Linked DNA regions of Homo sapiens. The protein of the gene in region 7 purifies or fractionates together with the protein of the main gene of each other region. This does not show direct contact. Each region holds a gene or a part of one and is shown on either strand. Other genes may lie near its edges. The genes, in order: CLPTM1, PTDSS2, FAM20B, PIGN, ASIC1, ITFG1 and ENTPD2.

Region 1 (3,500 bases), on a different chromosome or scaffold from region 7:
TTTCCTGAGCATGGCTGTGAGCCAGTTCCTTCCCGGTGTCAGGGCAGGGGCCTGGAGGAGGTGGTCTTGAAGTGCATGCCACAGATCTTCCTTCCCAGGGAGGGCGAGCTGGCACCATGGTGTGGCACAGACCCCGCGTCCCTTCAGATTCTGCCATGCCAGGCTGTTTGGCCTCAGGGAAGCAGCTTCCCTGACCAGTCCTTAGCACCTGGCACGTGGTGAGCCCTGTCCATGGCACCAGTCACCGTCACCATCAGTCAAGGGACTGCACCTTGGGGTGCTGGGTGCTGACGTCCTATGGGAGGGCTCCAGGGGTGCCGCCTGTCTGGTGCTCTGGGGGTCACCCAATGAATATGAGAGCCTTCCTGGGAGAGAGGGGTCTCGTTCAGCACCCCTCCTGAGGACCCAGCCCCACCCCAGGGTGTGAGGATGCAGGCCAAGGGGGCCTGAGGGAGCTGCAGTAGGGTCTCAGCACCTCCTCAGCCTCCTGGTTCCCCCCTACCCCCTGCGCACAGATATCCAGTTCTGGAACAGCCGGCAGTCCCTGGAGGGCCTGTCCGTGCGCTCCGTCTTCTTCGGCGTTTTCCAGTCATTCGTGGTCCTCCTCTACATCCTGGACAACGAGACCAACTTCGTGGTCCAGGTCAGCGTCTTCATTGGGGTCCTCATCGACCTCTGGAAGATCACCAAGGTCATGGACGTCCGGGTAAGGCTGGGGCGCCATGCTGTCTCGGGAGCTGCAGGGGTTGGGAGGGGGTAGTGTGGCCCAGCTGGACCCTGGAGCTGGCCCCCGGGGGATTCCCAGCAAGTGCCTCACTCCCAGGACTGAGGGGATTTTCTCACCAGGGGATTTTTTGGGTCACACATGGGGCAGGGGAACTGGGAACGGTGGGGAAGGGCAGGGGCTGGTTCTGGCTTGTGGGGTGGGAGCCAGCGTAGCAACTGACCATGGCACCCACCTCATCCACAGCTGGACCGAGAGCACAGGGTGGCAGGAATCTTCCCCCGCCTATCCTTCAAGGACAAGTCCACGTATATCGAGTCCTCGACCAAAGTGTATGATGATGTGAGTGTCCTGCACAGTGGGCCCCTGGGGGTGGTCTCCAGGTACCACGTATCCCTGAGGCACCCGGGGCCGGCCATCTGTCTGCCGGACCCATGCTTTACAGCCTGTGCCACATCCTCTGTGTCCCCCATCTGCCATAACTGCTTCCCTGGGCGAGTCCGGAGTCCCCAGGGCTACCTGGAAATTCCCCCTGCCCGGCCTGCCAGACCAGGTGTGGTGGGTGAGGGCGGGGAGCAGGGCTGCCAGGCAGGGCTGAGGAGCTGGCTGACAGCCCCACCCTGTGGCCCCACAGATGGCATTCCGGTACCTGTCCTGGATCCTCTTCCCGCTCCTGGGCTGCTATGCCGTCTACAGTCTTCTGTACCTGGAGCACAAGGGCTGGTACTCCTGGGTGCTCAGCATGCTCTACGGCTTCCTGCTGACCTTCGGTGAGCGGTCCGGCCGCCCCAGGAGAGAGCAGGCCCCATGCTGCGCAGGGCTCACAGCCCCAGTGTAGGAGACAGACCCATCCCCAGACAGGGACAACCTAGGGTGGGCAGAGCTGGGATATAGGGAGGCCCGAGGGCACACATGGCCCCATCTGGGGTCAGAGAGGACTTCAGGGAGGACATGAACAGTACGCTTCAGTCCTCATTCTCAGGGGGCCTTTGTGTCTTGGGAACAAGTAAACAAGTAGGGCCAGGTGCAGTGGCTCACACCTGTTATCCCAATGCTTTGGGAGGCTGAGGCAGGAGGATCACTTGAGCCCAGGAATTCGTGACCAGCCTGGGCAACTTGGCAAGACCCGATCTCTACAAAAAAACACAGAAATTATTGGGGAGTGGTGGTGCGTGCCTGTAGTCCCAGCTACCTGGGAGGCTGAGGTGGGAGGATCCCTTGAGTCCAGGAGGTTGAAGCTGCAGTGAGCCATGATTACGCCACTGCACTCCAGCCTGGGTGACAGAGTGAGACCCTGTCTCAAAAAACAAAAGACCGGGTGAATCACAGCCAATAGTGAGTACTGTGAAGGGCAGAGTGGTGGGAGGATGCACATTAATAGGGGTCCGGGGGCCCCTCTGAGGACAGGACATTTAAACAGAGGCCTCAGATATCCAGGGAGAGAGCTGTGCGGATGTGACAGAAGGCCCCACCAGTGCAGAGGCCGCTGGTAGAGTGTGCCCAGGTATAGGAAGTGGTAGAGTGTGCCCAGGTGTAGGAAGTGGTGAGGGGGCTGGTATGGCCAGTGCAGAGTGCACAGGGGAGAGGTGGGAGAGGCCATCCCTCTGCTCATGGGTGCTCTCACTGCAGGCTTCATCACCATGACGCCCCAGCTCTTCATCAACTACAAGCTCAAGTCTGTGGCCCACCTTCCCTGGCGCATGCTCACCTACAAGGCCCTCAACACATTCATCGACGACCTGTTCGCCTTTGTCATCAAGATGCCCGTTATGTACCGGATCGGCTGCCTGCGGGACGGTGAGGCCCGGTGGGCAGGTGGGAGCTCCCACCGGAACAGGGCCCTGAGGCAGTCTTTAGGGCCCAGGCCTGAGGGGGTGCCACGGCCCCAGATGGGGTGCTCAGTCTGAGGGGGCTCGGCCCCGCCCTTGCATCACGCCCTCTCCACCCAGGCCCACCTGGCTGTGGACGGGCCAGCCCGACCTCACACTGCCTCCCACCCCTCTCCAGATGTGGTTTTCTTCATCTACCTCTACCAACGGTGGATCTACCGCGTCGACCCCACCCGAGTCAACGAGTTTGGCATGAGTGGAGAAGACCCCACAGCTGCCGCCCCCGTGGCCGAGGTTCCCACAGCAGCAGGGGCCCTCACGCCCACACCTGCACCCACCACGACCACCGCCACCAGGGAGGAGGCCTCCACGTCCCTGCCCACCAAGCCCACCCAGGGGGCCAGCTCTGCCAGCGAGCCCCAGGAAGCCCCTCCAAAGCCAGCAGAGGACAAGAAAAAGGATTAGTCGAGACTGGTCCTCACCTGCTCCGGCTCCTGGCGACCACTACCCCTGCGTCCCGGCCCCCTCGCCTCCCCTCCCTGTCGCCCTTTCCCTGGACAGATCAGGCCGGGGCGGTGGGAGGCCCGCCTCAGGTCAGGGCCCAGCGTGTGATGTAGGGGCCGGGGCAGGCCAGGGTTTGTTTGTGGAGGCGCTGTCTGTCCCTCTGTCCCTCTGTGTTTCCAGCCATCTCGCCCTGCCAGCCCAGCACCACTGGGAATCATGGTGAAGCTGATGCAGCGTTGCCGAGGGGGTGGGTTGGGCGGGGGTGGGGCCGGGCCCCCCTACGGGATGCCCACGGCCGTTCATCATCTTGTCCCTCGTCCCCCTACCACACTCCCCCTCCTAGACCGCCGCCCTTTAACACAGTCTGGATTTAATAAATTCATATGGGTGTTTAACTTAAACTCAGCACTGCCCCTCCTCCTCGTGCCTTCCTTCCTCTGTTG
Region 2 (3,621 bases), on a different chromosome or scaffold from region 7:
GCTGCCCAACTTCAGCGAGTGCTGGTGGGATCACGTAGGTGCCAGCACAGCCCCCGGGGCAGTCGGTGCAGGCTGAGGGGCATTCTCGGAACCCCTGTGCCCAGCGCGGCCCCTGGACCCCCTCATTCTCCCCGGGGGGCAGTGGGTGCAGGCTGAGGGGCATTCTCGGTTCCCCTGTGCTCTTCCGGGGTCCTCCTCGGGGGGCTCGTTACCCCTCACCCCTGCAACGAGTGCTGGCCCCTCCCTGCAGTGGATCATGGACGTGCTCGTCTGCAACGGGCTGGGCATCTACTGCGGCATGAAGACCCTTGAGTGGCTGTCCCTGAAGACGTACAAGTGGCAGGGCCTCTGGAACATTCCGACCTACAAGTACGTCGTGGGGGCTGCGAGGGCAGGGCCGGGTGGGGGTTACCTGGAGGCAGCCTCAGCGTCCGTGCTCCAGCAGACCCCGAGCACCAGGCCCGTCCAGTGTGCGGCTCAGGAGGGGTGACCGTGGGGCTTTGCCTCCTGGAACCTCCCTCTGACCTGGTGTCACTCAAGCCCGGCCGCCCCTCACAGTGGCCATGGCGTCTGACCCACGTACCTCCCTCCTCAATCCCTGGCCGGCCTGGCGCAGGGGCTGTGGGATCATTCCGTGCTTCTCCCTCCCTTGGTTGCTTTGGTTATGAAATAGTTGCAGGTACTTTGTCATTATGACTTTGGAATTTAAAAAAGAAACAGAAGTCTAAGGAAAGGCCTGGGGGACGGGGGTCTCCCCTCCTGCCTGTGGGTGCCCCGGCTCTGCCTGGCTCTGCAGACATGGCTAGCTCACGGCACCGTGGAGCGCCCTCTGAGGCGCTGCAGCCACTGCTCAAGCTGGAAGAGACTGAACAGCAGAGGGCCGTGGAGAAGCAGGGCTTGTAGCTGGGTGGCCAGACCTCGGAGAACAGCCGGGCAGCAGCTGGGTAACCAGGAACAGAGTCTGTGGCCCGATGGCACAGGGCGGGGCGGGGTGACCAAGAGCAGAGCTCGTCCGATGGCACAGGGCGGGGCCGGGTGACCAGGAACAGTCTGTTGCCCGATGGCACAGGGCAGGGTTCGGTGGGCTGCCTTCCTCAGGCTGCCGGCTCTGTGGTTCCCAGGGGCAAGATGAAGAGGATCGCCTTCCAGTTCACGCCGTACAGCTGGGTTCGCTTCGAGTGGAAGCCGGCCTCCAGCCTGCGTCGCTGGCTGGCCGTGTGCGGCATCATCCTGGTGGTAAGGCCGGGCTGCCTCGCGACGGCGCGGCGGGCGGGGGGCCAGAGCTGGTGCTCACCCTCTCCTCCCCTAGTTCCTGTTGGCAGAACTGAACACGTTCTACCTGAAGTTTGTGCTGTGGATGCCCCCGGAGCACTACCTGGTCCTCCTGCGGCTCGTCTTCTTCGTGAACGTGGGTGGCGTGGCCATGCGTGAGATCTACGACTTCATGGATGACCCGTGAGGGCTGCGGCAGTCCGGGTGGAGACACCCCCGGGGGGCAGGGGCCGGAGGGCTGGGGAGCAGAGCCTGGGAGGCCGGAGCCTGGGCAAGTCCGCCTGGAGGACCCTGCGGGGCCCGGGACGCTGAACCCCCTGCTGCCCCTGCAGGAAGCCCCACAAGAAGCTGGGCCCGCAGGCCTGGCTGGTGGCGGCCATCACGGCCACGGAGCTGCTCATCGTGGTGAAGTACGACCCCCACACGCTCACCCTGTCCCTGCCCTTCTACATCTCCCAGTGCTGGACCCTCGGCTCCGTCCTGGCGCTCACCTGGACCGTCTGGCGCTTCTTCCTGCGGTGAGTCAGGGCAGGGCGCGTATGTTCTGAAGGAGGGCCGCTGTCCGGGTCCCTTGGCACAGGCACTGTGGGAGTTTGGTGTCGTTGGTGTCTCACTGTCCCTGCTTCAACCCTCTGGCCGCCTCTGCGGGAGGCGCCTTTCCTGACCCAGCCCTCGGGGCCTTCGCTCTGCACTGACAGATCCAGGCTCCTCAGGGCTCCAGTCTGCCACGGCTGCCGTCCCAGGGCCAGGGTACCCGGCACCCACCCAGTCCATTCCGGACCTCCACAGGGACTAGGTGCCAGCTGTCCATGGGGCCTGCAGTGGGGCTGGTGTGGGGGCAGGTGGTGACGCTGCATCCCGCTCCCCAGGGACATCACATTGAGGTACAAGGAGACCCGGTGGCAGAAGTGGCAGAACAAGGATGACCAGGGCAGCACCGTCGGCAACGGGGACCAGCACCCACTGGGGCTGGACGAAGACCTGCTGGGGCCTGGGGTGGCCGAGGGCGAGGGAGCACCAACTCCAAACTGACCTGGGCCGTGGCTGCCTCGTGAGCCTCCCAGAGCCCAGGCCTCCGTGGCCTCCTCCTGTGTGAGTCCCACCAGGAGCCACGTGCCCGGCCTTGCCCTCAAGGTTTTTTGCTTTTCTCCTGTGCACCTGGCGAGGCTGAAGGCGAGGGGTGGAGGAGGCCCCAGCACAGCCTCATCTCCATGTGTACACGTGTGTACGTGTGTATGCGTGTGTGTACGCGTGTGTACGCGCGTGTGTACACATGCGTGGCCGCCTGTGGTGTGCACGTGTGCTCTGGGCTCCGAGGCTTCTCCAGAGCTGGGAGCTGGCTGGCGTGGCAAGGGCATGCTCTGGGGCAGTGTGTCCCTCAGGAACCAGGGTCCTCCCTCCCCTTTCTGCCTGGTCAGCCCCGTGGCCTCTGGCCCACCAAGCTCCCTGTCACCCAGCCATGGTGTGGTCCAGGCAGGGACATCTCGGTACCCTTTCTGCACTCCGTGGGCCCTGGGTGCGCTGAGGCCTGGAGGCGTCTACACTGGCTCCACATCCACTTCCCCCGCAGCTCGTGTGGGCGCTCGTCCACAAACACTCCGTGGCTGAGAGGCAGCGGATCCAGGCAGCGATGCTGAGCCACCTCCTCCGAGCCTTCCTTTCACACAGACCACCCCGGAGGACACGTGGATGATGGGGTCAGAGATCACTGAGCTGCCCCTCAAGGGGGCCTGGAACCCGGGTGCTGGGGTCATGCTGCCTCCGTGGCTCCAAGGTGAGGGTCATCTTCACGAGCAAAGAGAACCAATAAAGTGACAACGAACGTCTGAGGCTTCCAGCCCTCCCCCCAGCTCCCCGTGTCCTGCTTTGGGGTCCAGTGCAGCCCTCCAGCCTGCCCTCATGCCCAGTGCCCACTTGGGGAAAACCACACAGAGGACAGGAGGCACTCAGCCTCTGCACCTGAGCAAAGACTTGGCGCCTGCCCCGCCCCACCCCCCAGAGAGAGCAGGTGCCAGATGCAGCCCCTCTCCCATTCTCCAGGAGGGTCCAGGTGGCACCCACCCTCTGCTGCGCTTGTCCAAGGGCTGGCGGCCACTGGGCAGTGGACACAGGATTCCTGGGGTACTGTGTTTGTCCCAGGCTGGCAGACACTGGGCAGTGGACACAGGATTCCTGGGGTGCTGTGTTTGTCCCAGGCTGGCAGACACTGGGCAGTGGACACAGGATTCCTGGGGTGCTGTGTTTGTCCCAGGCTGGCAGACACTGGGCAGTGGACACAGGATTCCTGGGGTGCTGTGTTTGTCCCAGGCTGGCAGACACTGGGCAGTGGACACAGGATTCCTGGGGTGC
Region 3 (3,087 bases), on a different chromosome or scaffold from region 7:
TCGCCTCTACTTGACAGAAATGCAAAGCTGGAACAGCACCTCAACAAGATGCAGGAGCAAAGCACACAGCTCTGAGTCCATAGATGAGTGGGCACATCAGGCCTGTCTTCCTTTGCCCCTGTGTTTTACTGCAACTACTTACATGTTGAGATCACTTTGCCAGAACACAAAACAAAAACTGTGTTTTACAAACCTGAAATTTGAGAGTGCTAAGAGGAGAAAGAAGCATAATACAACATCATGGGTTCAGAACTCCAAACAAGACTGAATGATAGAATTAGGATTTGACATAAATCAAAATCTTAAGGCTCTTCCTTTTAACCTCCTCAATTTCAAGGCTCAGAAGGCTTAAAATCTTGGCCGGCCACGGTGGCTCATGCCTGTAATCCCAGCACTTTGGAAGGCTGAGGCAGGTGGATCACCTGGGGTCAGGAGTCCAAGATCAACCTGGCCAACATGGTGAAACCCGAAACCCTGTCTCCACTAAAAATATAAAAATTAGCTGGGCACGATGGCGGGCGCCTGTAATCCCAGCTACTCTGGAGGCTGAGGCAAGAGAATCGCTTGAACCTGGGAGACGGAGGTTGCAGTAAGCCAAGATCGTGCCACTGCACTCCAGCCTGGGCAACAGAGTGAGACTTGGTCTCAAAAAAAAAAGAAAAAAGAAAAAAAGAAGAAGGCTTAAAATCTTTGTTTCCAATCTTCCATGGCCCCAAATCACAAGATAAGTCCAGCCACTTATCTGAGAGAGTAAGGTATACACTCTCACCTGTAGGAGTGTCCCTTTCTTATGAGAAAGGGACAAAAAGGTTGCCGATCTCTTGGGAACAGCAGCTTCAGTGACAAAAATGCCTTAAAGGCAGAGGTGGAAATTCATTTCAGAAGAGAAACGAGGATGACAGAGACCACAGGCAACCTGTTATTCAAGGTATTATTTCAGTTTGCTTTGTTAATTTGGGAAGGACTGCTTTTGGCAAAAGGGGAAAAAATTAGTCTCCACAGAGAATCATGCTTAGATTGTAATAGTATTTTCTCTAGAGACAACTTTTTGGTTAATTGGGACACAACTATGAGAATGCAGAATTTACTTAGGTGCAAAGTCATGTTTGCTTTTTATACACCTTAAGATCCTAAATACAAGGGAACCTGTTTTTCAGTAGTTCAGTCATCTCCCTGATTCTGGTTCTACCATTGGGTCTCTCTCTCTTCTTCCCTCCTCTAAGATCATCAAAACAATACTACCCAATGGCTTAAAAGCCCAAACATTTTTCTGTTTTTGTCCTTCCCTCCAATTCTATCTTAAACATGTATCTCCTCTAACAGAGTGTGCTATTTTGGCTTGATGGAATGCAAGGTTTTATTTGCTGCCACTCTGTAGGACAGTAAGCATTCCAATGTAACTAGTTCTGGTAAAAAAAAAAAAGACAAAGAGATTGCAAAGTGTTTCCACAAAATCCACGGGCGTAGAGAAAGGACTGCAAGGTTCAACTCAAAACACATGCTCCAGAGCCAATCCCAGTATTCATCTATCCAAATGTCACACCTGTTTGTCCTTTGGCATGGGAATTAAGACTGACCAACTATGATGCCCAACCCTAGAATGAGCAATTGCCGAGGAGGTGAGAAGGCGATTCAGCAGGAATGTCTCCATGCTCTGAAACTTGTGGTCTTTGCTTTAGTTTCTACTACAGAAAATACCAAAGACATCCAAGGCCACTCTGTCCCGTCACCAGAACTTGCTGCTGGCCACTTCCAATCCATCTCATACCATTTGGAATTGATTGTGCTGTTTCTCTATCTTTGTAAAAAGAAGTTTCACTTATTTTGTGTCGAGAATTACAAGTGTGAGAGAGGCATCCTGTCTTCCACCAGTACTGTGTCCATCCCAAACTGGTCGGTGCACTGCTTCACGGTGGCCAGGACACTCAGGAGCCGCTGGTCCACGGCGTCCAGATGAGGATCAGAGAGCACTGGGGAGATGGGGTCATGGGCCATGGCAGATTTTAAGGCAGACTTTAGCACACCATTCTTTAGGTAGTTCAGTCTGTTCCAGGTGGACACCCGAATGCTGGGAGAAAAAGTTATAGAACAAGGTACATAAAACTTCTCATTATCAAACGGAGTTGAAAGCCTGCTAGGCAGACAAAAGTGAAAAAATAATTAGGTAAAATCCTTTAACTAAATAATTTTTGCTTTAGAATTACCCCTACATAATGAGTAAGCCACATTACTATGTTTTGATATTGTTTCTGTGTAACTAATCAGAGATATATACAGAGATTTACACACATGTTCACTGCAGTGCTGTTTATAACAGGAAAAATGTTGAACAATCTGAATGTCTAACGACTGGGAAATAGTTAAATTATGGTTCATCCATTGAAAGGAATACCATGCAGCTGTTAAAAACAATTTTGAAAATTTAGTGGAATGGGAAAATGCCTATGATATGATGCTGGGTGGGGGGAAGAGGTTGGAGGAAAAACCTGTTTCACTTCAAATCTGTAGGAAAACAAAATACACATACATGGATTGGAATGAAGTACACTACAGTGTTAACAAGAGGATCCTTAGACGTTAATCCTTAGACGTTAATGGGTACTATAAACTTCCTTCTTCCTCATGTGTTTCTGAAGTCTAAAATAATTTCTACTGGGAAAAAATTATTATTATTATTTTTTTTTTGAGACAGAGTCTTGCTCTGTCGCCCAGGCTGGAGTGCAGTGGTGTGATCTCGGCTCACTGCAAGCTCTGCCTCCCGGGTTCACGCCATTCTCCTGCCTCAGCCTCCTGAGTAGCTGGGACTACAGGCACCCGCCACCACGCCCGGCTAATTTTTTTGTATTTTTTAGTAGAGACGGGTTTTCACCGTGTTAGCCAGGATGGTCTTGATCTCCTGACCTCGTGATCCGCCCGCCTCGGCCTCCCAAAGTGCTGGGATTACAGGCGTGAGCCACTGCGCCTGGCGGAAAAAATTATTTTAAGGATACCTATCTGCCTTATTTCACCAACTGCTACCATTTGAATGTCTGTCCCCTACAAAATACATGTTGAAATTGCCATTGTAACAGTATCAAGGTAGAGTCT
Region 4 (3,500 bases), on a different chromosome or scaffold from region 7:
AGTTATGTGTTTGTTTTGGAGGTATTTCTTTTTCAATAAATCTGAATAAATTGTGATTTTCTTTAAAGAGAAGTATTAAGTAATATTTAGTATTAAGCAATTAAACTAATTAAAATAAGTAGTTAGTGAATGCTGATATTTTGTAATAACTGCAATTTTATTTACATTAATAGTAAATTACTTTATCATAAAAGGTTTAGTTTTTTTTTTTTTAAAGTATTTTCAGTCTTCACATCTTGTTCTGGAGGAACAAAAACAGAAGCAGGGCATCCTCTAGTGGCTGTAGTGCATATTGCATTTACCCTTGAAATGATAATTCTAAATAATTTATTCAGCAAACATTTGAGTCCTTACTAAGTGCATAAGACTCTGATGGGTGTTGGAGATGCCCCGTCCTGCTGTCATGGAATTGTGGTGAAGTGACAGAGACAGACATTAATTCAAATAGTCGTAGACAAAGCTATGTAATTACAAACTGAAGTAAAAGTTTTCGTTTCTGACTTCACCTGCATAGTCCCTGAGGAAGTGATGCTTGAAATGGAATGTTAGGAGAGAGTGGAAGATAGGTTGCAAGTACATTCTGCAGAGAGGAATTGAGCCTACAAAGGTCTTATAGCAGTGGGATACTTGAATAAAAGAAGGGGCCAGTGATGTGAGATGTTACAAAGTAAAGGGGAGTGCTATGAGACAGGTTTAGAAAAGAAGGCAGAGGCTAGTCTATAAAAGACCTTGTTAGTCACATTAAGGATTTTAGTCTAGATTAGTAGGTGAAAAGGCACTGGAGAGTTTTTTTTTTCCAGCTGTGACTTCATTTTTAAATTTATTTTTTAATATACGATTTTATGTATTCATTGTGTACATGATGTTCTTCAGTTTATATACATTGTGAAATGCTCAAATCTAGCTAAGTAACAAATGCATTACCTTACACATAGTTATCATTTTTGTGATGAGAAATTTGAACATCTACCCTTTTAGCAGTTTTCAAGAATACAATATATCATCATTAACTAGAGTCACCATGCTGTACAACAGAGCTCTTGAACTTATTCCTTCTATCTAACTCTAATATGAATGCTTTGATCAGTATCTCTACAATTGCCCCCCGCTGTGGAACTACCCCAGCCTCTGGTTACCACCATTCTGCTTCTAATTCAGTGGGGTCAACTTTCTTAAGTTCCACATAGGAGTGAAATCATGCAGTATTTGTGTTTCTGCACCTGGCTTATTTCACTTAGCATACCAGGCTTCAGGAACATCCGTGTTGTTGCAAACGTGTCTTTTGACTTTAAAGACAGTGAATGCTTCACAGAAGGCACTGGAGAGTTTTATACAAGGGGTAAGATGTTCAGATTTTCTTTTGAAAAAAGAAAAGCAAGTAATACTCTGGCTACATGGCAAGAAATGGATCAGAGAAGGGTTAGAGTATATAGGGGTGACCTATTCCTGCATTGCAGTAGTTCGCATAAGAGATGGTATACATCTTAAATTATAGAGGTGTCAATGGAGATTAAGACAAATGAACAGATTCAAGAAACACAAAGTGGACAATTGTTAGATTAAATAAAGGGGAAGAATAGGGTGTAAAGAACAATGCCTATTTCTCAGACTTACATACTTGGTGGGAAGGTGGTGCCACCTACTGAGATTGTGAACACTAAGGATTTAGTAGGTAGTAGACAAGGCTCATGGGAAATGTTATGAATTTGGTTTTAAACCTACTTAGTTGAGTGTCTTTGAAACGTCCATGTAGATTTATAAAGGTTCGAGTTACATATGTGGATTTGGAGCTATAATTTGTTGAGGCTTTTGCATATTAGGTAATAACTGAAGCCACAGATATGATGAAACTTGCCAGGATAGAAAGTATAGAGTGAGAAGAAAAGACAGCTGAGGACCAAGTTTTGAGTAACTCCAAAATTTAGTGATCAGATAGAGACTGTTCAACATTGGTCAGAGGTGTAGGTGAAAAATGAAAGCAGTAATGTTCATAGAAGCCAAGTGATAACAGCCTATTAAAAAGGAGAAGGCAGCCGGGCATGGTGGCTCATGCCTGTAATCCCACCACTTTGGGAGGATGAGGTAGGTGGATCACCTGAGGTCAGGAGTTTGAGACCAGCCTGGCCAACATGGTGAAACCCTGTCTCTACTAAAAATACAAAATTACCTGGGCATGATGCTGTGTGCCTGTAATCCCAGCTACTTGGGAGGCTGAGGCAGGAGAATTGCTTGAACCCGGGAGGTGGAGGTTGCAGTGAGCCGAGATCGCGCCACTGCACTCCAGCCTGGGCGATAGATAGGGCGAGACTCTGTCTAAAAAGAAATAAAAATAAAAAGGAGAAGGCGACTGGGCCCAGCAACTCACACCTGTAATCCCAGCACTTTAGGAGGCCGAGGTGAGTAGATGACTTGAGCCCAGGAGTTCAAGACCAGCCTGGGCAACATGGCAAGACCCCCGCTCTACAAAAAATACAAAAATTAGCTGAATGTGGTAAACATGCACCTGTGGTCCCCGCTACTTGGGAAGCTGAGGTGGGAGGATGACTTAGCCCAGGAAGCTTAGGTTGCTTAGAAAATGAAGACTAAAAAATAGCTATTAGATTTTGCACTGTTAACTGTCTTTACTTTCTTATGAAGTAATGACAATAAGGTTTAAGTTGTTTGAGATTTAGGTGGTCAGGAAAAAAAAGAGGTCACATTCAGCCTTTTCAAGAAGTTTGACTGTGTTGGGGAGAAAAGGGCAATAGATGTTTAAAATTTTTTTTATTAATACTGATATTTATGAGATGTATCCTTTTCAGAAATATGGTATTTCATTATGAATAAACAATTTATCTGTTCCCTATGGTTAGATATTGTTTCCAATTTTTTATTATTACAAATAGCAAAAGCCAAGATTTGAATGTAAAGGTTTAAAACCTTTTTCTTTCTGATGTGTAATTTTATCATAGTAAATTCTACACTAGTAGCAGTACTAATACTTGTGAGCTGGTTAAAAACATAAGCTGATGTCTACCTCACACCATATACAAATAATTATTTTTGTTTCAGAGGACACAAACCAACACAAATAAATTTTAAATAATGAAAGGTAAAAAACAAAAATCTAAAACTATTAGAAGAATATATGTGACATAAGAACCAGGAAAGTTTTCTTCTATAGTACAAGACACAAAAAACTCACACCAGAAAGGATAAATGTTTGACAAATTTTACTGTATTAAAGTTGAAAAATTTATTTTAACAAAAGGCCCTATGAACAACATTTATATATAAATGTGTATATCTAGCTATGTATAAACATACACACACTATATAAACATACACACACATATAATTGTAATGTACAAGTCAAATAAAAGGTCAATAACCCTAATCCTATCTGATCAAAGGATATGAATAGGCAGTTGAAAGGAAGAGAGACCCAATTGGCCAATAAAAACATGAAAAAATTTTCATACTCACTAGTAATCAGGCAAATACATATTCAAATAACAGGA
Region 5 (4,205 bases), on a different chromosome or scaffold from region 7:
CCTCCAGCACTGCCTGGTACCGCTGAACAGCTCCCCAAGACCTGAATGGAAGATCCTCCCTTCCTTTTGGCAGCTCCGTGTCCAGTCCCCTAGTAAATGGATCTCGACCTCCCTCCTCCACAATCTTAAGTCCACTCTCCCACTAGGGACCTCCAGACCCCTTCTCTGGTTTCCTAGATGTCCACTACTCCCAACTTCTCATCCAACTTCTTTCCAATGTGCCATCCCCTTCTCGTTACAGGTTTTCTTCTAACTTAAAGCCCGGCACCATGTCCTAGGAATACACCTCTCACCATCCTTCTCCCCGAGCCGCACCAGCCTGCAAGTAGAGCGAAGGAGCCACTAGAGACAGAACTCTGGTCCCCCGCACCCTCCTCCTCATCATCTGACACCATCAGACCTCAACAGCCTCTGTGCTAAGAGCCCCTAATGAGCATCAGCAAATTAACAACTTCCCCTTGATTGCTCCTTCTCTGTTAATTGGATAGGGAGGGCCCCCCTCCCCAAGGCCTCTCAGAGAAGAGGAGGGAGGCAGGGAAGGAGAAAGGTGAGAGCCACAGGAGCAGCCCCCAGGCCTGCGTTCTGTGCTGAGACTTCTGCTCCATCCCTGAGCATAGCTCCCCGTTCCAACCCTTCCTCACCCTGTCCCCTTCACTCCCTTTGCCTCCTTCCTTCTGTCCAAATTCCCTTGACCTCTGGCTATTTTTCCTTCCTTTTCTCTGCTCCTTCTTTGGAGATTTGGCAGTAAGGGGTTGCGACCATGCCCCCCACAAGCCCAAAGCTACAAGGATGGGATCTGAGTGGTCAAGGCTGCGTGTTGGCTCACATATGTGCACGTGTATATGTGTCACATGCAGGTGGGAGCAGGGATAAGAGCAGGTGAGTGCTTGCCATGTGGGTCAGGCCCCCGGGATACGTGGACATCTGTTGCGGGGGGGTGTGGTTGTGAATGGTGTGGTGTGACTCTGGTCGGTATGTGTGTCTGTCTCCATATGGGCTAAGTGCTTGAATTAGTCAAGTGTGACTCGGAGCGTGTGTGTGTATGTGTGTGTGTACGCGCGTGTGTGCCACCAGAGGAAGCAGCAGCAAGAGGCAGGAGCATCGATCCGAAGGAGACAGCGCGGGGAGAGGGACGCTAGGGGCAGACACCCTCCCTCCTGCGCGCACACACGCGCGCGCGCACACACACCACACACAGAGTCATACACACAAGCCATAGGGCCTCGCAGGCAGGGAGACGGCTCCGGGACTGGAGAGAGGCAGCGCCGCCGAAAGCGGCCGCGAGGAGGGGCGAGGCGGCGCGGGGAGCCCTGGGTCCCGCTCCCGGATCCGGGGCCCCGCGCGCACACCAGCCCAGAGACAGCCTCGCAGACACTCGTAGGCGCGCACGCGCACCCTCTCCCCTCCCCCTCCCCTCCCGCCGCCTCCCGGCCGGACGATGGATCCCTGCAGATCCCAGGGCTGAGAGCACCGCGCACCGCGCCGAGCCCGGGCAGACCGAGCCGAGGCGAGCGAGCCAGCGAGCCAGCGCGCGCGGGCGGGCGGACAGATCGGAGCCGAGCGGGGCCGGGCGGGGCGCTCCCTGCAGGGCTCTGCGCGGCGTGCCGCGGCGGCCGCGGGCTCCGGCCCCGGGCCATGAGCCCCTCCGCGACTCGGCGCTGAGCCCGCCACCGGTCCAGCGCCCCAGGACCCGCCGCCGGCTGCCGGCTTGCCGAAGCCCCCTCAGGTGGGTTTCCGATACCCCTGCCTTTGGCCGCGAGGCTCCTCGGTACCCCGAAGCCGGGACTCTCCTCCCTCTGGATTTCCCTTGCTGCTGGGGCGGCTCGGTGGCTGGGGAGGGGGGCGGGGGCCGAGCTGGGGATCTGACTGCGACGAGAAGCTGGACTGGGGGGGGCTGCGTCCGGGGCGGGGACAGCTCGCTGTCATAGGGAACCGCGCCCCCCCTCCATACATCCACCTCGGGCAGCCCGCCACCCCCCACTCCCAACATACACACAGCCTGCGCTTATGTGAGAACTGGAGACACCCGCAGGTGAGGACTCAGGCTGGGCCCCTCCCTAGATGTAGCCACCTCCCTGGGGGTTTTCTGGCCCCAGTTTAGCCCTTAGGACCACAGCCCCGTCCAGGGAATACCCGTGACCAGGACAGGAGCTCCTTACCCCGGGGTCAGCCCATCTGGGTGAGTTTTCATCTCCAGGATGGGGTGGATATTCTTGTCCCAGAGTGACCCCACATCTGGAGGGAACTCCTGCGCCTGCCTATGGGTGCATCAGGACTTCCCCCTCAACCTCGGATGACTATATCTGGGGTCTCCCCGGGCCTGGGAAGCTTCTCTGGGGAGCATTCTCTTGGCCTGACCTGACCCCCTGTGCCTCTGTATTTGGAGGAACCCTGGATGTGTCCCTTGGTCAGCCACCTCTGGGCTTGCAAAGCAGGGAAGTCTTCTGCCCGAGGAGTGGTGACCTCTGGAGATGAGGATTCTGGATGGGCACATGTGGAGGGGCTCCATGTGTACTTTCATCCCAGGACAATGATAGACTGTCCCTCCCTCCTCCCCCAGGATCCCCTCAACAAGGATGGAACTGAAGGCCGAGGAGGAGGAGGTGGGTGGCGTCCAGCCGGTGAGCATCCAGGCCTTCGCCAGCAGCTCCACACTGCACGGCCTGGCCCACATCTTCTCCTACGAGCGGCTGTCTCTGAAGCGGGCACTGTGGGCCCTGTGCTTCCTGGGCTCCCTGGCTGTGCTGCTGTGTGTGTGCACGGAGCGTGTGCAGTACTACTTCCACTACCACCATGTCACCAAGCTCGACGAGGTGGCTGCCTCTCAGCTTACCTTCCCTGCTGTCACGCTGTGCAACCTCAACGAGTTCCGCTTTAGCCAAGTCTCCAAGAATGACCTGTATCATGCTGGGGAGCTGCTGGCCCTGCTCAACAACAGGTGGGTGGCTCCCACCCTCCCTCAGCCCTGCTCCTGGAGTTGCTTGAGTTCCAGTCAGGATGTCTGCCTCCCTGACCCACCATAGAGCCCAGCCAACCCTGCCCTTTAACCCACCCCCACCCCCAAACCTGCCACTCACAGCAGAGGAGTTAGGGTGCTGCTGAGCACCCAGTTAAGGGCACCCAGCCTCCGATCCCAGCATAGTCCAGAACAGCTCGACCCCCACCCAGCCTGAGGTATGAGACATTGTCACCCTCTCTGGAGTGAGCTTTACCTTCATTCTGGCCACTCTGTCTTGACCTTCTCGTCAGTTGGGGGATGGGGACAGAACATCTTTAAAGGGTAGAAACTACAGTATAAAAGCCACAGCCCCTGCCTTGTCTCTCTGCCCACCTTATCCATGCTTCCTCTCACCCATGTGCTGGGATGGGATGCCCTGCCCCTGGGCAGCCACTACAGTTCCTCCTGTCATTTCAGACCCATGTGGTAGAGCCTCTGCATGCCCAGCTCTCCTTCCTTGCCTACACCTGGGACTGATCCCCAGGGCTGGAGGCTGCCCCCATCACCCAAGTTGGGTGCAGGACACTGATGACTGTACTGACCCGTGTGTCACTCACCCCCGGACCCCAGGTATGAGATACCAGACACACAGATGGCAGATGAAAAGCAGCTGGAGATACTGCAGGACAAAGCCAACTTCCGCAGCTTCAAACCCAAACCCTTCAACATGCGTGAGTTCTACGACCGAGCTGGGCACGACATTCGAGACATGCTGCTCTCCTGCCACTTCCGGGGGGAGGTCTGCAGCGCTGAAGACTTCAAGGTGGTGAGTCCCCTCGTGTGGGGTGTGAGTCAGCCTGGCCCACAGAGGAGGAGGAGGAGACAAGGAGCAGGCTGGGCCTCTCCGGGTGCTTGCTACTCTGGGAGAGGAAGTTGTATGTCCTGGGGTTTGCTTCTAGTAGAAGGGGAGTTTGTTCAGCATAGGGGCACATTTGCACTCACTGCATGAGCACCTGAGCCTCAGCCTTGCAGCCATGATGGCAGGAAAGAGAGCCTACAGTGCACAACACACACATATATGCACACACGTGCGTGGTCTGGCATAGCCACAAACCCACCAAGCTTACCTTCTAGGCCACAGGTGTCAGAGCTGAGCAGACAGGTGGGTAAGCTACAGCCGTGTTACTTGTAGTGAGGTCCAGGACCATCAACTGGGAGCTTGAAAGGAATGCAGGACTTTGCCACCCCACTTCCCAAACCTACTGAA
Region 6 (3,500 bases), on a different chromosome or scaffold from region 7:
AATAATATCTTTTAATTGAAAACATCCCAGTGATAATGCTTACTGCTTTGGCAATTATGAGCCTCCATTTGTTAGAAACACCATCCGAATGTCTTGGTGTCCTTGACAAAGGAACTATATAGAAGGGCTATACTAGCCATTGCTTGAACATAATAAACACGTTTTCTCTCGACATATTTCAGATTTGTCTTGTTTCTTGAGACTATTCTGCATTCATTCTGAACTCTTTTTTAGACCAAAGAGGTCTAAATACATGATGGATGAAAAGATAGGAAAGAGAAGGCAATCAGTCAGTTCTGTTAAGTTTTAAGTTTTTCATTGAAAATATTTTTGTGTGGTAGAAATACAGAATTGTCCTTTTCCATTACAACTTGTCTGATATTTGTAAATGCTTGTTTCTTTTAGGAATCACAGTGCATTGATAACAAGTGTAGTCCCTGGGGATTATGATGGAGATTCTCAAATGGATGTCCTTCTGACATATCTTCCCAAAAATTATGCCAAGAGTGAATTAGGAGCTGTTATCTTCTGGGGACAAAATCAAACATTAGGTGAATTTGTTTTAAAAATTTTTAATATTTATCATTGAATATGAAGGTAAATGTAACAAAATATTGTTCTGAAATCAGTTCAAAAATACTGTTCTTGGGTGTCAATAATTGTAAAACCTTTTTTCAAAGTTTATTTCCTGATTTTTCTTTTTCAACCCTGAACTGGGCAGGGATCACTTCTACTGACAAACTTCATTCTTACTAGCTTAAAGAGGACAGAGATTTATTAAAGGATTTTAGTGGCTCACAGAATCATTGAGATGGCTAAAGAATAAACTCTAGGTTGAGCTTTCAGGAGCAATCCCAATATCATCAAAAAAGCTACTGCCTCTTTCCCCTATCAGAAGTGGCTAGTTACACAACTGCTGCCAGAATGATGCTGTGCCTGCAGTGATTCTCACTAGCAAAATGAATGCTGCACCTGGTCTCTTGATACTCCCAAATTCAGTGAGCAGACACAGATAGAAATAGCAGAGAAACAGCCTTTACCTCATTCATGCCTTTAAGACTCACAGTGTATCTGATTGGCAAGGCTTAACTTTTATTCAGCATCTCAGATGCCACAATATCTGGAAAATGCTATTTTTGGTTTCTAGTCTCCTTAGCACAGGAAAGCACAAAAAAGTTGAAGTATGGTTCGAGAGTCAGTCTACCATACCTAGTCACAAATCATCAAGCCTTATCTGAAAAGCCAATTAGTTATACCTAAATAGGCAACTTTGTTCATGGAGCCAAATTTCAGTCATGTTTTCTGCACCATTTGGGAATGTAAACAGTAATCGCGATACATTATATTCATTAAGTCAATAAATATTTACAGAGGGAGTACCATGCACAAAGCTTGTATATAAGCATGTACATTTTAGAACCAGGAAGTTTTGCATATGTGGCCTTCTTTACACCAAAACCTTGTTAATTGTCAACCTCTCTAGCACTAAATTGTGTAAAGACAAAGACTCAGCTAGCAAATATTTAGATGCATACCTCAAAAGGAGGTTATTGTAATGCTAGTCTTCACTGTAGAATGTATTCTCCCAATATTTTGTCTTTGCAAGCTTGATGTTCATTTGAACTAGATTTATAGTATCTCATTAATGATAATAGTTGGAATAAATCAGAGATAAATCTAGAAAAGAGTAGAAGAATATTTTTTCCTAAGCATAGATATCAAAAGTAATATAAAATGCCTGCTAATTCATATATATATATATCTTTTTTGCAGATCCTAACAATATGACCATACTCAATAGGACTTTTCAAGATGAGCCACTAATTATGGAGTAAGTATGGGCTTGCTTCCTTTGAAACGATTTTAAACTTAAACATAAAATAAAATCTTCACATAGGAAACTACTTTGCTTAGTAATAAAAATACTAAATTCACTCAGAGGCCTGTACCTTTGATTATATTGTATTTATTTGCCATCAGATAGGACAAAGAAAAATGAAATTTATTATTTTGGAAAGTAGAAGAGATTTGTGTTTTTATTTCAGTCGCTTCAAATGTGTCCATTATGGATCTATGCTGTCATTACTGAAAGAATTAAGATACCTGTTTTTGAGTAAAACTGTTATATTTGATATTTAGGATACAGTTTCCTCTAGAAATTTAGAAAGATTCCTATATTAAGGAGAAATTTTTGTTCTTTTTATAATATAACTCCTGCTTTGTGTTATCATTTATATTCTCACTGTAGACTCATGTACCAGCATAATTGATTTAAATAATTGATGTAAATTTGGATTTGCAAATTTCTGACAGCGTATTTTGGTAGAGGTCGAGATCATTCCCGGGACTAGAGCAAAGTTTGGCCACATTCTTGTTTCCAGTACTGTCTTTCTTACAGTTATTAAAATCATACCCATACAGCAGTGTGTCAGTGGCCATTAGAAGTCTGAACTGTAAATCCATGGATTAATCTTCTTAACGGTGCCCCGCTAGATTTCTTTCATAGTTGTGTATTTTTTCATTGTTGTTAAAATATTCAATGGCCAGTATGAAGTTTTATACCAACTAGGATTATTTTTCTAGGTTATTTCTCCTAAGCCCATCTAAGTAAACAAGTTGGCTTAGGATTCTGAAGTAAGTTTCTAGGAATTAGTGCTGTATCCTTATCATTCAAGGGTAGTCTAGATAATGCAAAGATTACAGAGATACCCAAAATCTCACAAAACGAATTTATTTCTTGCTCTTACTATATGTCCAGTGTGGGTCAACAACAGGCTCTGCTCTGTGCTGTTGCTTAGAGTCAGGCCATCAGAGAGCCCACTGTCTTTGTAGCTAGTCCATCTGAATCACAATGCCTTCTCATTGCCATGGCAAGCCTGGAGAGGGCTGGAGGGGCTGGTAACAGAAATTATACACTTTGGCCTAAAAGTGACACATGTCACTTGTGCTGACATTTGACTTAATACTTATCACTAGATACTGGCGAGCATTGTAATGTCTACCACACTTCCCAAAAGTTACTGCTTCTTTTAAAGCTAAATTAGAAGTAAGAATTTAAAGAAATAGCTGCTTATTGTTTTAATTTTTTTTCAGTTTCAATGGTGATCTAATTCCTGATATTTTTGGTATCACAAATGAATCCAACCAGCCACAGATACTATTAGGAGGGTGAGTAAATATGGTTATAACTATGTAATTAATCGTATATATTGCTTCTACTTTAACCATTGGAGAAAAAATAGCTCATTGGAATCCTTGTTTTTAAAGATTTTTAAGTGGGCATTTGGTTAATATATATAAGCTTTCTCAAATAGTTTGGATTTGGCCTGCACCTGCTTTCCAAGGGCCAGCTTACTCCTTTTATCTCTTTGAAAAATTAGAGATTGAAACTTTACGGGTCCCCATTTAAATATTGGTTCATTAAATGTTTTTGAAATGGATAGATTTCACGTAAATAGGGAGGATACCTGCAGTCTTGAGTGGATCCTCCCTATCTTAGT
Region 7 (4,021 bases):
CATGGTCTGGACCCTGCCCCATGGGGCTGCCCTTTGGGCCCCAGCAGCCTGCACTCCCTGGTGGCCTTGCCTCGTGGCTCCCTGACGCTGTGTGGCTGGAATTATTGGGACAAGAATTCCCACTTTGCAGCAGGCGCAAAGGGGGTGGCCCCTGGCCGGGCTGGGATGCGGGGCCTGTGAGGCTGCAGAGCCGAAAGGCCAGCCATGTCGTGGGACGGAGGAGCAGGGCTTGCGTCTGGGGCCAGCTGCGCTTCGCCTGCCCCAGCCGTCCCCAGAAGCCTGTTGCTGACCCGCACCCCAAGCTTGGCCTGGGGACCCTCTTCCTTGCCTTTCAGGCCACGTAGAGGCCCCACCTGTTTCCGTCCTGGGGAAGCCTCCTCTGGCCTCCGCAGCCCAAGCCTCTGTTCCCCTCAGGCCGAGGGGGCAGCAGGCGCGGCTGAGGCCCTGGGCTGGGAGGTATGGACCTTTGGCCCGGTCTGTGCTGCTTCTCCTGTTTCTCGGCTCGGTGTGACCTGGGCCGTCCCTCCCCTTCCCCGTTCCTGCGTCCTCACCTTCACCTCAGTACAGGGCCCAGGTGAGGTGGATCTGACTGGGCCTCAAGGGTAGTTCTGGCCTGGGTCAGCTGCGTGTCTCTGGAGCTGACCTGCGCTGGCTCAGCGCCGCAGGCTGGCGGATCCTTGCTGGCCGGGAGGGCATCCCGCAGGCCAGCCTGGTCCTCACCAGCCCTGGGAGTTGGCGCTCAGGGCCCTGCTCCACAAACAGGTGCTGACCCTCGGCTTCCTCCTGAGTCCCCAGCCCGGGCCCCGCGTGGCTCCGCAGCCGACAGTGCCTCATTCCTGCAAGCGAGTCTGGCCTCCTTTCCCGGGCCCGGGAAAAGCGCGGCTCTCCAGCACAGGACCCTCCGAGCCAGCCTCGCCCGCCCACCCCCACGCCAGGTCTCCTGCCTCCACGGCCGGGGGATCCCCTTGCTGAGTGGGCGGGAAGGGGAAGGTGGGCCATAGCCGCGGGGCGCCCGGGCTCAGACCCGGGAGCCGGGGGGCGGTGCTGGTGACTCAGCCGCGCCCGCGTCTCTCACCTGCGCGGGCCGGACGGCGGAAGCTTGGGAGCGGAGGCGAAACCTGTCCGCCCGTGGGCGTGGCCGGTGATGGGCGGGCCCGCCCGGCCTCCCGCCCCTCGTCCCGCCCCGGGGCCCCTACCCCGCGGTCCCGCGGCCCCGCCCGCCTCCGCCTCCGGCTCCCCGCACTCTCCGGGTCCACGCATCGTCCTCCCGCGCGCCCGCCCGCCCATGGCCGGGAAGGTGCGGTCACTGCTGCCGCCGCTGCTGCTGGCCGCCGCGGGCCTCGCCGGCCTCCTACTGCTGTGCGTCCCCACCCGCGACGTCCGGGAGCCGCCCGCCCTCAAGGTGCGCGCCCGGGCACCCAGCGCACGTCTGGGGAGCAGCGGGCCGGGCTTGGAGCCGGGGAGGGGGTGCGGCTGGGAACCTGAGCAGGATCAGCCCGGGACCCCCACCGTGCTCTGCTCCTGGCGGGCTGGGTGGGGTCCCGGGTTCCGCGCTCTGCGCTCCCCGACCGGGTACGCGGAGGGGGCGGGGGGCGGTGGCGCTTCCAGGGCGACGCGGTGCTGAAGGAACAAGTCCCGGGAGTTCCGCGCCCGCCGCCGAGTCCGTCAACGCAGCCCAGGGGCTGTGTCCCCGCTCCCGGGATAGCCCAGCGATGCCCCCTGGGTGCTGCCGGACGCCCGCCCCCAGGCCTGTGCGGGCCCCCAGGGGCACTCCGGGCCACTTCTGCCCTGTGCCGCCGCCCCGGAGGGTGCGGTTAGAGCCACATCGACTGGGTATTCAGCCCAGATGGGGATCCACAAGCCCCAGGACCCAGGGCCCCCGCCAGGACACGAGAGTGGCCCAGAAAGACAGGAGGGCTTGACCGGAGCAGCCCTGGCCGGTCCTCAAAAGGTTGGAGCAGGCTAGCCTGGATCTCCACTCCAGCAGGCCCAGGGACCTCCTGGTCGGCCCCTTTAACCCTTTATTGGGCTTGTAGGGGGGTGGGGTGGAGAGCCAAGTCCCCCAGCCTGATGGGGAGTCAGAAGCAGGGAGCTCTGCGGCCCTGCAGGACGGCCATGTGGCGGTGCACGCGCTGACCTGTTGATGCTCTGGGCTCTGGGGAAGCCTTGGTCGGGATGGACTGGTGCGGCCCTCTCGGAGGCTGGAATTGGCGCCCGGGCCTGGGAGGCTGGTCCCCAGCTTTCCAGGTGGATCCAGGATGCTGGGGCAGGAGCTGGAAAAGGGCATTTACAAGCTCGTGCCACTCAGGTCTGCAGGAAGGCCCACCCAGCACCCCCAACAAGGCAGGGCCAGCCTCTCTCTCTGGCCCTGGCTTGGAGGCCTAGGGAGAGTGTCTTTAGAGCTGACCTGGCTCTGAGGCCCACGGCCAGCCTCGGTGGACCTTCTTCACCTGGGGCCCTGCCTCCTGCATCCTCAGGTTGGGCTGCCGTCAGAGGAGCTGGAAGGAGACAGAGGAGGAAGGAAGAGGGGAGGAAGGAAGAGGGACTCTAGGGAGCTCCTCTTGCAGAGGAGCTTCCTCTCCCTGAGCCTGGGAAACTTGTGCCCCAGGGAAAAGTCCCTGGGGACCCTCTGTCCCTCTGTCCCTGACTCAGTCCCTCAGTCTGCCCTTGCCAGGAAGGCTGCTGCCCAGACCCTGGCATGCTGGCTTCAGGTAGTCAGGAGGGAAGAGTCACCTCCCCACCACCTCCCTGTTCTCCTTCCAACCACGGCCTCAGAGGAGGCCCTGGCCTCCTCTGAGCTTCAGCATGAGGCTTGGCACATGACTGGGTGGGGGGGGGAGCGGTGGCAAACTGGAGGAACCCAACTTCACGTTTGGTGTCAGGGTGTCAGGGCCCCCGGACACCCCAGGCTGACTCCCTCCCCCTCCCCCGCAGTATGGCATCGTCCTGGACGCTGGTTCTTCACACACGTCCATGTTTATCTACAAGTGGCCGGCAGACAAGGAGAACGACACAGGCATTGTGGGCCAGCACAGCTCCTGTGATGTTCCAGGTGAGGCCCAGCCCAGCCCAGCCAGGACGCCCACTCACTGCAGGGTCTCTGGGACCCTCTCCAGCCTTAGCCAGTGCAGGTCCTTCTGCTTAGTGTTGGGTGGGGCTCACTCCAGGCAGAAGCCCTGGAAAGAGAGAGGCTGGTGCCCCTGCGCCTGAGTGGGGCCAGGAGTCGTTTGCATTCTAGAAAGGAAGCCTAGGCAGCAGGTGGGGAGGTTTGAGCCTCGCCGGGCCCAGTATTGGCTTCTGTGCCCCAGATGGAGCAGGAGGAGGTCTGGGGGCCTGGCGGACACACCCAGGCAGGCCTCAGGAGGCCAACCTGGGTTGACCATGCCCAGGGCTTTGTCCTAGCACCTGCACCCACACCCTCTCAGCAGGCAGCAGCCTTGGTCTCCGGGTGGCACCTGGGCCCCTTTGTCTCCAACCTGGGCGTTTCTGGGGGCTTAAGCAGGGAAGGTGTGCCACCTGGTCTGGGAGCCCACGGCCCCCACCCCCACCCTCACTCTCCTGGCCTACGGCCCACCTAGGGGCTGCCCGTGAGGCATAGGCTCATCTCTCTGCCTCCCTCTAGGTGGGGGCATCTCCAGCTATGCAGACAACCCTTCTGGGGCCAGCCAGAGTCTTGTTGGATGCCTCGAACAGGCGCTTCAGGATGTGCCCAAAGAGAGACACGCGGGCACACCCCTCTACCTGGGAGCCACAGCGGGTATGCGCCTGCTCAAGTGAGTGTGCCTGTGCCCTGGCCCTGTCCCCATGATGGCCTTTGGCTGTGACCCCTTGCAGGGCGGACTCCGAGCACCCCTACAGCAGGCTCACAGCCACCTGGGGAGAAGGCCTCTTGGAGTTCTCTGTGTTTTGCAGCCTGACCAATCCAGAGGCCTCGACCAGTGTGCTCATGGCAGTGACTCACACACTGACCCAGTACCCCTTTGACTTCCGGGGTGCACGCATCCTCTCGGGCCAGGAAGAG

Evidence for each region.
Region 1: the proteins of ENTPD2 (region 7) and CLPTM1 purify together in Homo sapiens (affinity purification with mass spectrometry; one large-scale study listed by BioGRID and IntAct). This does not show direct contact.
Region 2: the proteins of ENTPD2 (region 7) and PTDSS2 purify together in Homo sapiens (affinity purification with mass spectrometry; one large-scale study listed by BioGRID and IntAct). This does not show direct contact.
Region 3: the proteins of ENTPD2 (region 7) and FAM20B purify together in Homo sapiens (affinity purification with mass spectrometry; one large-scale study listed by BioGRID and IntAct). This does not show direct contact.
Region 4: the proteins of ENTPD2 (region 7) and PIGN purify together in Homo sapiens (affinity purification with mass spectrometry; one large-scale study listed by BioGRID and IntAct). This does not show direct contact.
Region 5: the proteins of ENTPD2 (region 7) and ASIC1 purify together in Homo sapiens (affinity purification with mass spectrometry; one large-scale study listed by BioGRID and IntAct). This does not show direct contact.
Region 6: the proteins of ENTPD2 (region 7) and ITFG1 purify together in Homo sapiens (affinity purification with mass spectrometry; one large-scale study listed by BioGRID and IntAct). This does not show direct contact.

What each region holds. Positions count from the first base shown.
Region 1 is NC_000019.10:44,989,880-44,993,379, forward strand, and holds the end of CLPTM1 (putative lipid scramblase CLPTM1), read left to right. Parts: intron 1-515; coding exon 516-706; intron 707-970; coding exon 971-1,066; intron 1,067-1,358; coding exon 1,359-1,494; intron 1,495-2,353; coding exon 2,354-2,521; intron 2,522-2,731; coding exon 2,732-3,018; 3' UTR 3,019-3,462; downstream 3,463-3,500. UniProt on the Homo sapiens protein: Involved in GABAergic but not glutamatergic transmission. Binds and traps GABAA receptors in the endoplasmic reticulum (ER).
Region 2 is NC_000011.10:488,279-491,899, forward strand, and holds the end of PTDSS2 (phosphatidylserine synthase 2), read left to right. Parts: coding exon 1-34; intron 35-250; coding exon 251-369; intron 370-1,121; coding exon 1,122-1,236; intron 1,237-1,309; coding exon 1,310-1,455; intron 1,456-1,604; coding exon 1,605-1,790; intron 1,791-2,141; coding exon 2,142-2,304; 3' UTR 2,305-3,121; downstream 3,122-3,621. UniProt on the Homo sapiens protein: Catalyzes a base-exchange reaction in which the polar head group of phosphatidylethanolamine (PE) or phosphatidylcholine (PC) is replaced by L-serine. Catalyzes the conversion of phosphatatidylethanolamine and does not act on phosphatidylcholine.
Region 3 is NC_000001.11:179,070,894-179,073,980, reverse strand, and holds part of FAM20B (glycosaminoglycan xylosylkinase), read right to left. Parts: intron 2,069-3,087; coding exon 1,837-2,068; 3' UTR 1-1,836. UniProt on the Homo sapiens protein: Responsible for the 2-O-phosphorylation of xylose in the glycosaminoglycan-protein linkage region of proteoglycans thereby regulating the amount of mature GAG chains.
Region 4 is NC_000018.10:62,180,557-62,184,056, reverse strand, and holds part of PIGN (GPI ethanolamine phosphate transferase 1), read left to right. Parts: intron 1-3,500.
Region 5 is NC_000012.12:50,056,191-50,060,395, forward strand, and holds the start of ASIC1 (acid-sensing ion channel 1), read left to right. Parts: upstream 1-1,405; 5' UTR 1,406-1,726; intron 1,727-1,979; exon of another isoform or gene 1,980-2,032; intron 2,033-2,560; 5' UTR 2,561-2,576; coding exon 2,577-2,938; intron 2,939-3,568; coding exon 3,569-3,764; intron 3,765-4,205. UniProt on the Homo sapiens protein: Forms voltage-independent, pH-gated trimeric sodium channels that act as postsynaptic excitatory receptors in the nervous system, playing a crucial role in regulating synaptic plasticity, learning, and memory.
Region 6 is NC_000016.10:47,451,064-47,454,563, reverse strand, and holds part of ITFG1 (T-cell immunomodulatory protein isoform 1 precursor), read left to right. Parts: intron 1-405; coding exon 406-551; intron 552-1,773; coding exon 1,774-1,831; intron 1,832-3,093; coding exon 3,094-3,168; intron 3,169-3,500. UniProt on the Homo sapiens protein: Modulator of T-cell function. Has a protective effect in graft versus host disease model.
Region 7 is NC_000009.12:137,051,262-137,055,282, reverse strand, and holds the start of ENTPD2 (ectonucleoside triphosphate diphosphohydrolase 2), read left to right. Parts: upstream 1-1,221; 5' UTR 1,222-1,285; coding exon 1,286-1,402; intron 1,403-1,907; exon of another isoform or gene 1,908-2,273; intron 2,274-2,407; exon of another isoform or gene 2,408-2,934; coding exon 2,935-3,052; intron 3,053-3,622; coding exon 3,623-3,773; intron 3,774-3,912; coding exon 3,913-4,021. UniProt on the Homo sapiens protein: In the nervous system, could hydrolyze ATP and other nucleotides to regulate purinergic neurotransmission. Hydrolyzes ADP only to a marginal extent. The order of activity with different substrates is ATP > GTP > CTP = ITP > UTP >> ADP = UDP.